3 linked regions of the Homo sapiens genome follow. The protein of the gene in region 2 interacts with the protein of the main gene of each other region in a pairwise test. Each region holds a gene or a part of one and is shown on either strand. Other genes may lie near its edges.

Region 1 (3,757 bases), on a different chromosome or scaffold from region 2:
ATTATCTGAAGTTCCACTGTACTTTGACACATATATACAAACCTTTGGTTAGTCTTTATCTGCATTTTAACCCTTAATTTCTAGAACCTTTTATCTCTAAATTAATTATCATCTCCATGGTTCCTACTTACTTCCTTTTTCAATAAAAATCTGATTTATCTCCCTTTTATAAGAAAATTCCAAATCTTTAGAAGATGCTTCTGTCTCAGGCTTCTCATTTCAGTATTAAACAGATAGGGTTTTTTCATAAGCAGATTAAATTTTCTCCTTCCAGGGTTTGCGCGTGCACACACACACACACACACACACACACACAAACATACACTAAATTTCCTAGCTTCCTTCCAGCTCTCTGAGAGTCTGTACCCTTTAGCAGTGTAATTTCCTATTAGAAAACTCATAGACTAGCTTACTTCTCTGTAGCAGATGAATTAGGTGCAATTTATCTGACAGAAGATTGTTATAAAACTAGGTAACCCATTTAAAAATACATCAGCCATCTGCAGCTTAAGATATATACTTTGCCTTCAAAAATACATTTTATGGTTTTCTAGCCTTGCTTTGCCATTTTTTATCACAATCATTTTTTAACCTCAAAATGTGTGAAATGTATGACTTTACTGATCACCTTTACTTACACAGGCCTGTATTTTAATTCATAGGTGATGGTGCACAGTTGGATTTCGATGCCCTATGTGACAATGATGACACAGCCATGGCTGCATTTATGAATTACTTAGAAGCAGAGGGGGGCCTGGGAGACCCTGGGGACTTCAGTGACATCCAGTGGACCCTCTAGCCTTTGATTTTTAACTCCAAAAATGAGAAACATTTTAAAGCATTTCATTTACGAAAAACTGTCTCAACTATTCTTAAGTACTGTATTGATATTGTTTGTATCTTTTATTAATGTTCTACCACTTTTTATAGATTTGCATCTTCCTGTCACAGGGATGTGGGGAAATACGTTTTCCTCCCAAGAGAACCAAGTTTATTATAGACTCCTTTATTCAGTGAAATGGCTTATAATCCACTAGTTGCCATATTTTTGCTAAAATATTTCTAACCAAGAATACTACTTACATATTGTTTTGGCTTTGTTTTATTTTTGATGCAGTTTTTTTTAGTTGAGGTAATGTAATATATTGATGTTTTCCTTTGTGTCTAAGATTCATTTATAATAGTAGGTTTGTATAATTTGGAACATTTTCCATTCCTTGCGAATTTCCTTAATTGAGGATAGGGCTTACACACTTTAAGAAAACAGTGAGTACTTGAACATTTAAAGGGACAGTGCAATTTATAGTCATAATCACATTGAATACTGTATTTGATCTTTGGAGACTTAGGCAAGCACAGAGCTGGGATATTTATGCTCAGTTGAGCACTTTAAGATGAATTTTAAGTGAGATGATTTCTTGCTTAAAACTCAGAAAGTCAAAAGAGTTTCAGCTTTCCTTACAGAAAAGGAAGGATCTTGGGCCCTAGATCTTGGGGATTAACCTCTGCATATAAGATTTACTCTTAATAGGCCAGACGTGGTGGCTCACGCCTGTAATCCCAGTACTTTGGGAGGCTGAGACGGGCAGATCACTTGAGGTCAGGAGTTCAAGACCAGCCTGGCCAATATGGTGAAACCCCGTTTCTACTAAAAATACAAAAAAAATTACCCAGGCACTCACTCTTGAGGTAACTAACCAACTCCCACGATAATGACAGTCCATTCATGAGCGCAAAGGCCTCATGACCTAATGGCACACACCTGTAATCCCAACTGCTTGGGAGGCTGAGGCGAGAGGATTGCTTGAACCTGGGAGGCAGAGGTTGCAGTGAGCCGAGATCGCACCACTGCACTCCAGTCTGGGCAACAGAGTGAGACTTCATCTCAAAAAAAGTAAAAAAAAAGATTTAATATAATCACTGAAGATCTCTATTATAGATAGATTAGGTTTTTGACATTGGAAACATACTTAGGGATAGATTTGTCCTAAAGGAAAAAAGTAGGCCCGGGCAGATTAAATGTCTTGTGTAAAGTCACACATTAAATTCAGTCACACATTAAATTCATAGAGTTTTAAATGTTTAATGTATATAAACCAGTTTCTTTATACACATTTGGGAAAACATTGGTCTCACAGATTAAATGATTAACTAACTGACCCAGGAACTAGTTGTAGCTTTCTAAGTAATTAGGCAATTACAGTTATTGCCTGTAACCAAAGGTAATAAAACAAAATGACAAGTACATGTTTAAAATTATGAGGCAATGAGAAATAATTTAAAAACCAATTTTCTAGTTATAATTTAAAATTTGGAGAGCATTTTTAACAGTAATTAATCCAGAGGTGGCTCAAATTGAGTATAAGAATTAAGATTATTTAAAATACTGCATGTCTACCTTCTCGGGGATCATACTTTATAACACTTTCTGCTTCAGTAGCTCTTCATAGCTTGCCAAGTATGCTCCCATATTTTCTCTCTCGTGCCTCGCAAATGAAAGTCAGATAGGCTGGGAACTCATGGGGCAGCCCTCAGACTTCAATGTGGGCTTCAAATCCAGTTTCCTGTTCTATATGGTGCTACATCTTTCCAGAAAATTTCCCTCAGAGCCCCTCGCCAAAACAAAGCATTATTTTGACCCTGCATGCTATTTCTTTAGCTGTAGGTGATAGATTAGAACTTCTGTCAGACATGTTAATGACAAACATACCAACAGACAATAACCAAAAGCAAATGTTTCCTTCAAGTGTGAAATGTGCAGGGGCTTCGTGGGCAAGGATGTATTGGCACACTGTCCTCTTGAACTGATAGTGTCCCAGCAATGTTGGAGGGTTGGCACCATTCCTGGTCCGACACTTGAGGACCTGAGAGACATCAGGTTTAGAATGAGCCAAAGAAATCCTACAAGATGGGGAGAATTGGTGTGCAGCAGCCTAAGTGTTATAGTTAAGTCTAAAGAAGTATGAAAGATCCCCTGTGTTCTCTAAATTGAGCAGAGGGGCCTGCCTACCAATATCACTTTTTAGGGGACTGAACCATTGCAGGTTAGACTTGGCTTCCAAAGAGTCTGCCTAAGCCAGGGGTGGCAGGGTAGGCCATCATAGCTGGATGGCCTCAAAAGCAGATGGGGGCAGACTTGCCCTCGTGATGCCAGGATTTGAGAGGCAGAGTTTCTAGAGGGAGACCAGTGCTGCCTCTCACAGTGGCAGTTTTTTCTCTTTGCAAGAGGAGGGGCTGTTCAATTCCATAGACCAGTGGGCAGATAGCCAGTTGAATACTCTGTGCATGGTTTGATCCTTTATTAGTTCGCTCTAATATTTTTCTGTAGATCCTTTTGTCCTGGACTCAAAATCTAATCCATGCATTGTATGATACCGTAGCTCTCCTAAGGTTTGTGTTTCCTTCAAAATGTTTTAGTTTTCTTCAACTAAATTTGATTTTTGCTGTTAGAAGTGACATATTTTTATGGTATACACTATGTTCCTTTTTTCTACTGCGAGTCAATTTTTTGAATTTTCGTGAGAAAGAATATATCTACAAATTGCACGAAAGTATCATAAAAACAGTACTCTAGACTTTTCTTTTCTTTTCTTTTTTTTTTTTTTTTTTTTTTTGAGATGGAGTCTCGCTCTATCGCCCAGGCTGGAGTGCAGTGGCGCGATCTTGGCTCACTGCCATCTCTGCCTCCTGGGTTCACGCCATTCTGCCTCAGCCTCCAGAGCAGCTGGGACCACAGGCGCCCGCCACCACACCTGGC
Region 2 (2,948 bases):
ATGTCCAGTTCTGGGCTTTCACTGTGCTCTGTCTCTGGCCGAGGGGATCTCTGCTCTTCCCAATCACAGTCTACCTGGGAAGACCCTACTCCAGCCCAGCCGCCTCCAAATTGAAGTCCTAATGCCCAGGCTGCCCCTTTCCCTTCGGGACCTCCATCCCAAAGTGCACTATGTGAATATACAGAACAGTGTGGCTCTCAAACGACTTCATGTAATTTTCTGAAAGCAGAGACCATGACTTCTTTCCTTGGGTTCCCCATAGGATACAAAAAATGGCCCCGAGGCACATAGATAGATAGATAGAAAAATACTTGCAGAAATATGGAAGATACAATATGAATTTTCAGACTTAGGCAACTACCAAGTATTTAACACAGTCTTTCCTTCACCAGTCTTATCAGCTCACTTCAGTAGTCTCATAAAGGTCTGTGCTAATGTTCAATTTATATGAACGACTTAATACTTCACTTTACATTGGCATAGCCCATGATAAATCCACAGGAAATAAGAGCCACCAGCAGTGGTAGGATCAGAATACTTTAATAAGATACCAGTGTCAAAATACATTTCCTTATAAAGTTAAGCTCCCATACAGTTATAATGTTGTCAGTAGGAATTCGACAATATAATAACGTTCATGAAATCGTTACGTTGACAGGTAGGGTTAATATGAAGCTTGGAATATTTTTCAGTGTTTTAGTAAAACTGCAAGGGTAAAATGCCCTTAATGCCAGGGCAACACACACAGGAAATCAAATACCAGCATTTACACGTCAGTAACCCTTCAAGTTCTGCCACCCTGTGTGGGGTAATGCCGTGCAGCTAAAATATGATTTACGCAACACCATGACTAAGGAATTTCTCATAGAACTTAAATTTCTTTTGAAAGCTATTTTTTGTTTTTGGCAATAAGTCTATCCGGGCTTACTAAATAGTTGGCCCAATGTGCTTTGTGTGTGTTTTTAGAAACTTCTTCATTGTACCCATTACAGAAAAGTTCCATGTAATTGGTATTGAAAAACCAGAGGTGTCGTCCCTCTTACCCAGGGAGTTGCAAAGTGCTCTGGGAACACTATTTTCAGTGCTTCCTACCTACATGTCACTGACCGACCCAGAGACCTCAGCCAGGGCCTGTGGCTAGGGGCCATCCCTGGAGGCCTTGCGGGGCCATCTGGCTGCCGGCTGAGTGGGGGCTGCAGGGCTGGTCTGGACCAGCTGCTCTCCCGCTGTGCAGCCTCCTCCTCAGTCCAGCTCCACGGGGCTCCAAGGTCGTGAGCTTGGAGGACGTGGACGGGGTCACTATACCATTTTTGACCCCTCATTTGCATGAATTCCCGTCTAAACCATCTCATGGTAGTTCTGGAAATGTCCAAATGTGCCGTGTGAAAGACCATCCGAGTCACATAGCTCAGTGCACTTGAAGGGCTAGCAACAAAACCTTAAGAAAAGTTAGAGCACTTCCCCGCCCCACCCCCCGACCCCACAACGTGCCATCAGACCCTCTTGGCAGCAATAATAATAATACATACATACATAGTACATAGAGAATGTGAGGGGATAGCGCGCAGTGCTCCCGCTGAATGACTCCACTGCTCGGATTGTCACACCTATGGCATATCACAGATGGCAAAAAGCCGACAGAGGGAGGCCTTCCACAGTGTCCGTACAGGCCGTGGGAGCACTGGACAAGTCTGCAGTGTCCACAACACTAAGAAAAATTAACAGCTTCGAAAAGATCTTAAAGTGATTTTGTGAGCAGGATTCCATTTCCGTTTCTAAGTTTTTAGATATTACAAAGTACCCATATATATGATAAACACTTAACCCAGATATAAATTTTCTCCTCTTTTAAAAAACTCAGTTATGTTTTTGAATAATAATAAAAAATCCACCAAATGCGGGGGAAAAACACCAGTTTAGGAAAAGCCACGCTGTGCAACTTTCACAGATAACCACATACGTTGGAGTTGACCCTTCACATTTCTTTTTTTCCAAAATTAGAGCAAAGAGTCAGCTTAAACAAAAAAAAAAAAACCCTGAAATTTACAATATGGTGATTAGTTTAAAAAAGAAACGAGAAGGGCTCTGCGAGGGAGACGCCACAAACCAAGCTTGGAAAGCAAAATCATTTTTGTTTCTCTTTGGCAACAACAATAACGAGGAATCTTTTTAGTAAAATGAAGCTAAAGCTTCTCCCTACAGAAGAACAGACATGCACCAAACTTGTTAGTATGGACAGTTGTGTGTGAGAAGGAGAAGGAGGGAGAGAAACCTATGGATAATATAAATTAGAAGTCATTGAAGGTGGGGAGGAAAAAAATCCTACAAAATTTAAGAACATTTCAGAACAGGTAAAACAATTGTGTACTTTAAAAATAGGGATAATAAAGTGAGCATCTCAGAAAAAGGCCACTGCTTGGTGACCTGGGCAAGTCTGCCAGGTAAGTCCATCTTGTAAATAGTGTGCTGGCGTTAGAAATACCTAGTTGCAAAAACAGACGGAGAGAGTGAAGCTGGTGGGACGGCGTCGGCAGAGGTGCTGCCCAGGTAGAAGGCCTGGCTCAGGTGGCCTGGTCCAGGGCTCTGAGGAGGTCCCCTCCTTGCAGGAGCGTGGAGCTTCCCAGCACGGGCACGTTCACCTCACAGTCATATCTGGTCAGTTCGGGCAGCAGGTAGGACTCAAATGAGGGCCCGAGCAGCCGGCTTGCCATGCCTGAAAGAAGGGTTGGTACCATAACTTAAAGGCCTAAATCGAACATTTGGAAAAGTGTCTACTTCTTTGTGACTGGGGGATACCAATAGAGCAGCCCTAATTTCACTCTGCTCCTTCAGTGGTGTCTGTCCCACGGCCTGCTGCATGCCCGGGGAACGTGTCTGCCTCCAGAACCACTGCCTCAGGTGGGGTGCTGAGACCCAAGAAAGAGGAAAGCGTGAGGTGCGGGCTGCAG
Region 3 (3,757 bases), on a different chromosome or scaffold from region 2:
TCCTTCTCCACAGTCTTTTTTCATTGTCACCTTATCACAAGACTCAGATTTATCCCAAATACCCACCTTGTCTTTTCTTCTCCCTCTCATGAAATAAGACCTGCTCTGACTCAACCCCCTCAGCATCTCTTACTTCCCACCCAAAATGTCCTGTCTCTATCCCCATCGTCCCCTCATCTCCTCCCAATTCAGAGAAAGCAAGTGGACCTCTCCTCTGTTCCTTTTCTTGGCCTCTCACCATGGGCAAGTGCCTGGGCTCTGGTGGCAGAAGAATCCATGGCTCAGGTTTGGGCTTTGTGGTCTTGGATGTGTGCTTGACTCCTCTGACCTCAGGTTTCTCCTCTTGGTGTAATGGCAGTGCCTGCCTCGTGGAGTCTGTGTGAGGATTAAGGGAGATGGTGCATGTAAAAGGCCTGGCACACAGGAAGCCTTTCCTTTGTGCCAGCTGCCATTCCTTCTCACCTCTACCCGGGTCCTATCACTAGAATATTATTTGTGCTGTTTGTCCTTAGTCTCCCCTGCCCCACCCTGAAAACCTTAGGCTTGACTTAGGAGAGGAAGGATGGAAGAGGCAGAGTCAGACTTGTGGTGAGCCTGCTGTGTACCAGGCAATTTACATGTGTCTTTACTTGGTACCCTGGGTTCGTAAGCCTCTCTTTCCTCCCTCCTGCCAGCCTCCCCCACTCTCCCATCTCCTGCTCCATTCTTAGTACCTGCCCTCTGGCTTCTCTCGCTACCACCTTTCTTTATATTTCTTCTCAAAGTTTTCTCCAAAACTTTGTCGTGAGTTCCTGGGGCCCATCTGCCCATCCTTATTCCTGAGTGGTTGTTCTTGGCCCCTTTGCAGTATTTCTTTTATTTTTTTAAACATGGTCTCAGTCTTGCCTGGTTGGAGTGCAGTGGTGCAATCGTGGCTCACTGCAGCCTCCCAAGTCTCAGGTAATCCTCCTGCCTCAGCCTCCAGAGTAGCTGAGCCTACAGACACGTGCCATCACACCTGGCTCATTTTTGTATTTTTATTAGAGATGGAGTTTTGCCATGTTGCCCAGGCTGGTCTCAAACTCCTGGGCTCAAGTGACCCACCTGCACTGGCCTCCCAAAGTGCTGGGATTACAGGCGTGAGTCACTGTGCTCAGCCCCTTTGAAGCTTTTACCTCACTTGTTTTTTGTCCTTTGAAATCCTTTCCTCTCTCAGCCTTTGGGTCATGCTGGTTTCTTGATTCTCTTCCTGCACCCCTGTAAAGATAAATGTCTGTCCTAGCTTCTGCTATTCACACTGTCCGTGGCCTGGGGTCCCCTCTCTAGCCCTGACCTGTCTCTCCTGTGTTCTGCTAGCAGGTCCGTTGTGGACATGAATGGCAGCCTGTAATCTGCATTTGTGGTCTCGGAGTTACAGGTTTGCAGACTGCTTGCAAGCACTGTCACATTGAGTCCTCATGACACACTGGAGCCTACATCCCTTCATTCCCCAGGCTGTCCTAAAAGGCAGTTTGGTTGGGTAGTTTAGCATACAGACTCTGGAGCCAGATTTCACATCCTAAGTATTCCCTACTGGCTTCGTGACTTGTGGTCAATTTTCTTTTGCTCTCTATGCCTTGGTGTCCTCATCTATAAAACTGGGATCATAGTAGCCCCTACATCAGAGAGTTGAGGTGTGGATTAAATGAGTTAAAGCATTGGAAAAAGTGTGCCAGTCTATTCATGGCACATTGCAAACACTCAGTGAATGTTGCTGTCAGTCTTGCTGCTCTTCGTTGCCTTGCCGGGGTGCCTTGGCCTGGTTTGTAGTGGTCTCCACATTCAGCCTGCCTGTCTGCCAGACCTTGCCATGTGCCTGGACACTGTAGTCAAGCTGAGGGGCTGTCCATTCCCTGTACCAGCCCTTGGCCCAGTCCATCCCTCAATTTTCACGTGTCCAAATCCTCCTCTGCTTTTAGGACCCAGGGCCTTGGTCCTGCAGCACTATTTCTTCATTTTGTTTTCCTTCCTCCCCACACCTGGCAGCAATGTCCACATTGATTTTTCTCCAATTCTCTTAGGTTCTGCTGCATTCCATATTGTGTTGGGCTGTCTCTGAAAATATCTCACCTGCTCGCTCAGCCTGAGCATTCTGGGAGAAGTTTATCTTGCTTTTTCCAAAATGACAGGCACAGGGAGCCTTTAGGCCATGGTTGTCCAATGCACATTGATCTTGTGGAGGAGGAGATGGGATGGGGTGGGCACTCAGGGACGGAGCAGGTGGAGGGAACAGGATGCACACTGCATAGAGGTGGGGGTGCAACAGGGCCATAAGTGGACATGGCCGTAAGTACTTAGGTCTGCATGGAAGGAGGGTTTGAATTGGGGACTTAACCTCAGGGGGAGATAAGATTGGATAAGGTTTAGTCATCTTTGCTGCAGGGGAACGTTGAGTACTGGCATGTAATGGAGAGTGGTTTTTACCTTAGTATGTGCTGTCCTTTTAAATAGTGTAAACTAATTCTTTATCTAGCCTGGTTAAAGAAGGGGATGGCTGGTCTGCCTAATTTAATATTTGGCTATTGCTCTACCCACTGGGTTTTGTGCATATACTGAATGAAGCATTGGCTTGTATTTATTCCTTCAATCACTGTTTGAAATGTCTGACCTGGGCAAGTTAATTAGCTTCTCTGAGTGCAAAATAGGAATAATAATTATTACGATAATAGCAGCTAACATTTATTGAACACTTTCTATGTGCCAGCACATATGTGAGTCACCTTTGCTTATTAACTCATTTAAACCCCATAACAACTACATGAGGCAGGTACTATTATCCTTACTTCACAAATGAGGTGGTTTTATAAACTGCCCAAGGTCACTCAGCTGTTATGGCTTGGGGCAGAATTTGTGCTGGTGAACTCCAGAGTCTGCCCTGTAACACCCTAGTAGATTCCTACTGGGAGGAAACACCCCGTTATATCCCTTACCTCACTCAGCCGCACCATGCCAGGAGCCTAGTAGGCTGACAGCAATTGGGAACCAGTCTTATTGTTGACAAACATGGTATGAGCCTCTTTTAGAGCGGAGCTGCCTGAAACCCTCCGCATAAGGGATGCGGACCTGGATGCTACCTGAGCAGCAGCTCCAGGGGCTTGTGAACATTCTCCTCACATCCTGTTATGCATGGCTGTCTCTCTGGCCTCCCCCTGCTTTCTCTGCAGCATTGCTCTGACCCAGGCCCCCTGTGGCTCAGCCAGCTCCTCCCCAGGCAGCTCCTTGTGTGAGATGAACCTTTTAACATAACTCACTAACCCCACCTCCCACCCTCATCTAGCCATCTGCAGAGCTCCTCACTGGGGAGGGGACCTTTTCAAAGGTCCCTCACCTTCGTCCTTTTCTCCCTGAAGACCAACGTCCACAACTTTGGTATATCCACAGTGTTGGGGTGTGTGTGTGTGTGTGTGTGTGTGTGTGTGTGTATATATATGTGTGTGTGTATATATATATATATGTGTATATATATATATGTGTGTATATATATATATGTGTATATATATATATGTGTGTATATATATATGTGTATATATATATATATGTGTGTGTATATATATATATATATATATATATATATATATTTTTTTTTTTAATGCCAGTTGTTCCCCAAATACATTTAGATAGTAAGGGACACATTGTTTTATGTCAAGAACCTGTTACATAAAAATGTGTTATATAATGTTCAAATATATACTGCACAGTGAAATTAGATACCACTTTTTTTTTTTCAAAGAATAAAAGG

The links.
Region 1: the proteins of EPAS1 (region 2) and BMAL2 interact in binary tests that used the Homo sapiens proteins (3 or more experiments, as listed by UniProt).
Region 3: the proteins of EPAS1 (region 2) and BMAL1 interact in binary tests that used the Homo sapiens proteins (3 or more experiments, as listed by UniProt).

What each region holds. Positions count from the first base shown.
Region 1 is NC_000012.12:27,419,734-27,423,490, forward strand, and holds part of BMAL2 (basic helix-loop-helix ARNT-like protein 2), read left to right. Parts: intron 1-662; coding exon 663-799; 3' UTR 800-3,757. UniProt on the Homo sapiens protein: Transcriptional activator which forms a core component of the circadian clock.
Region 2 is NC_000002.12:46,384,274-46,387,221, reverse strand, and holds the end of EPAS1 (endothelial PAS domain-containing protein 1), read right to left. Parts: intron 2,714-2,948; coding exon 2,562-2,713; 3' UTR 525-2,561; downstream 1-524.
Region 3 is NC_000011.10:13,280,672-13,284,428, forward strand, and holds part of BMAL1 (basic helix-loop-helix ARNT-like protein 1), read left to right. Parts: intron 1-3,757. UniProt on the Homo sapiens protein: Transcriptional activator which forms a core component of the circadian clock.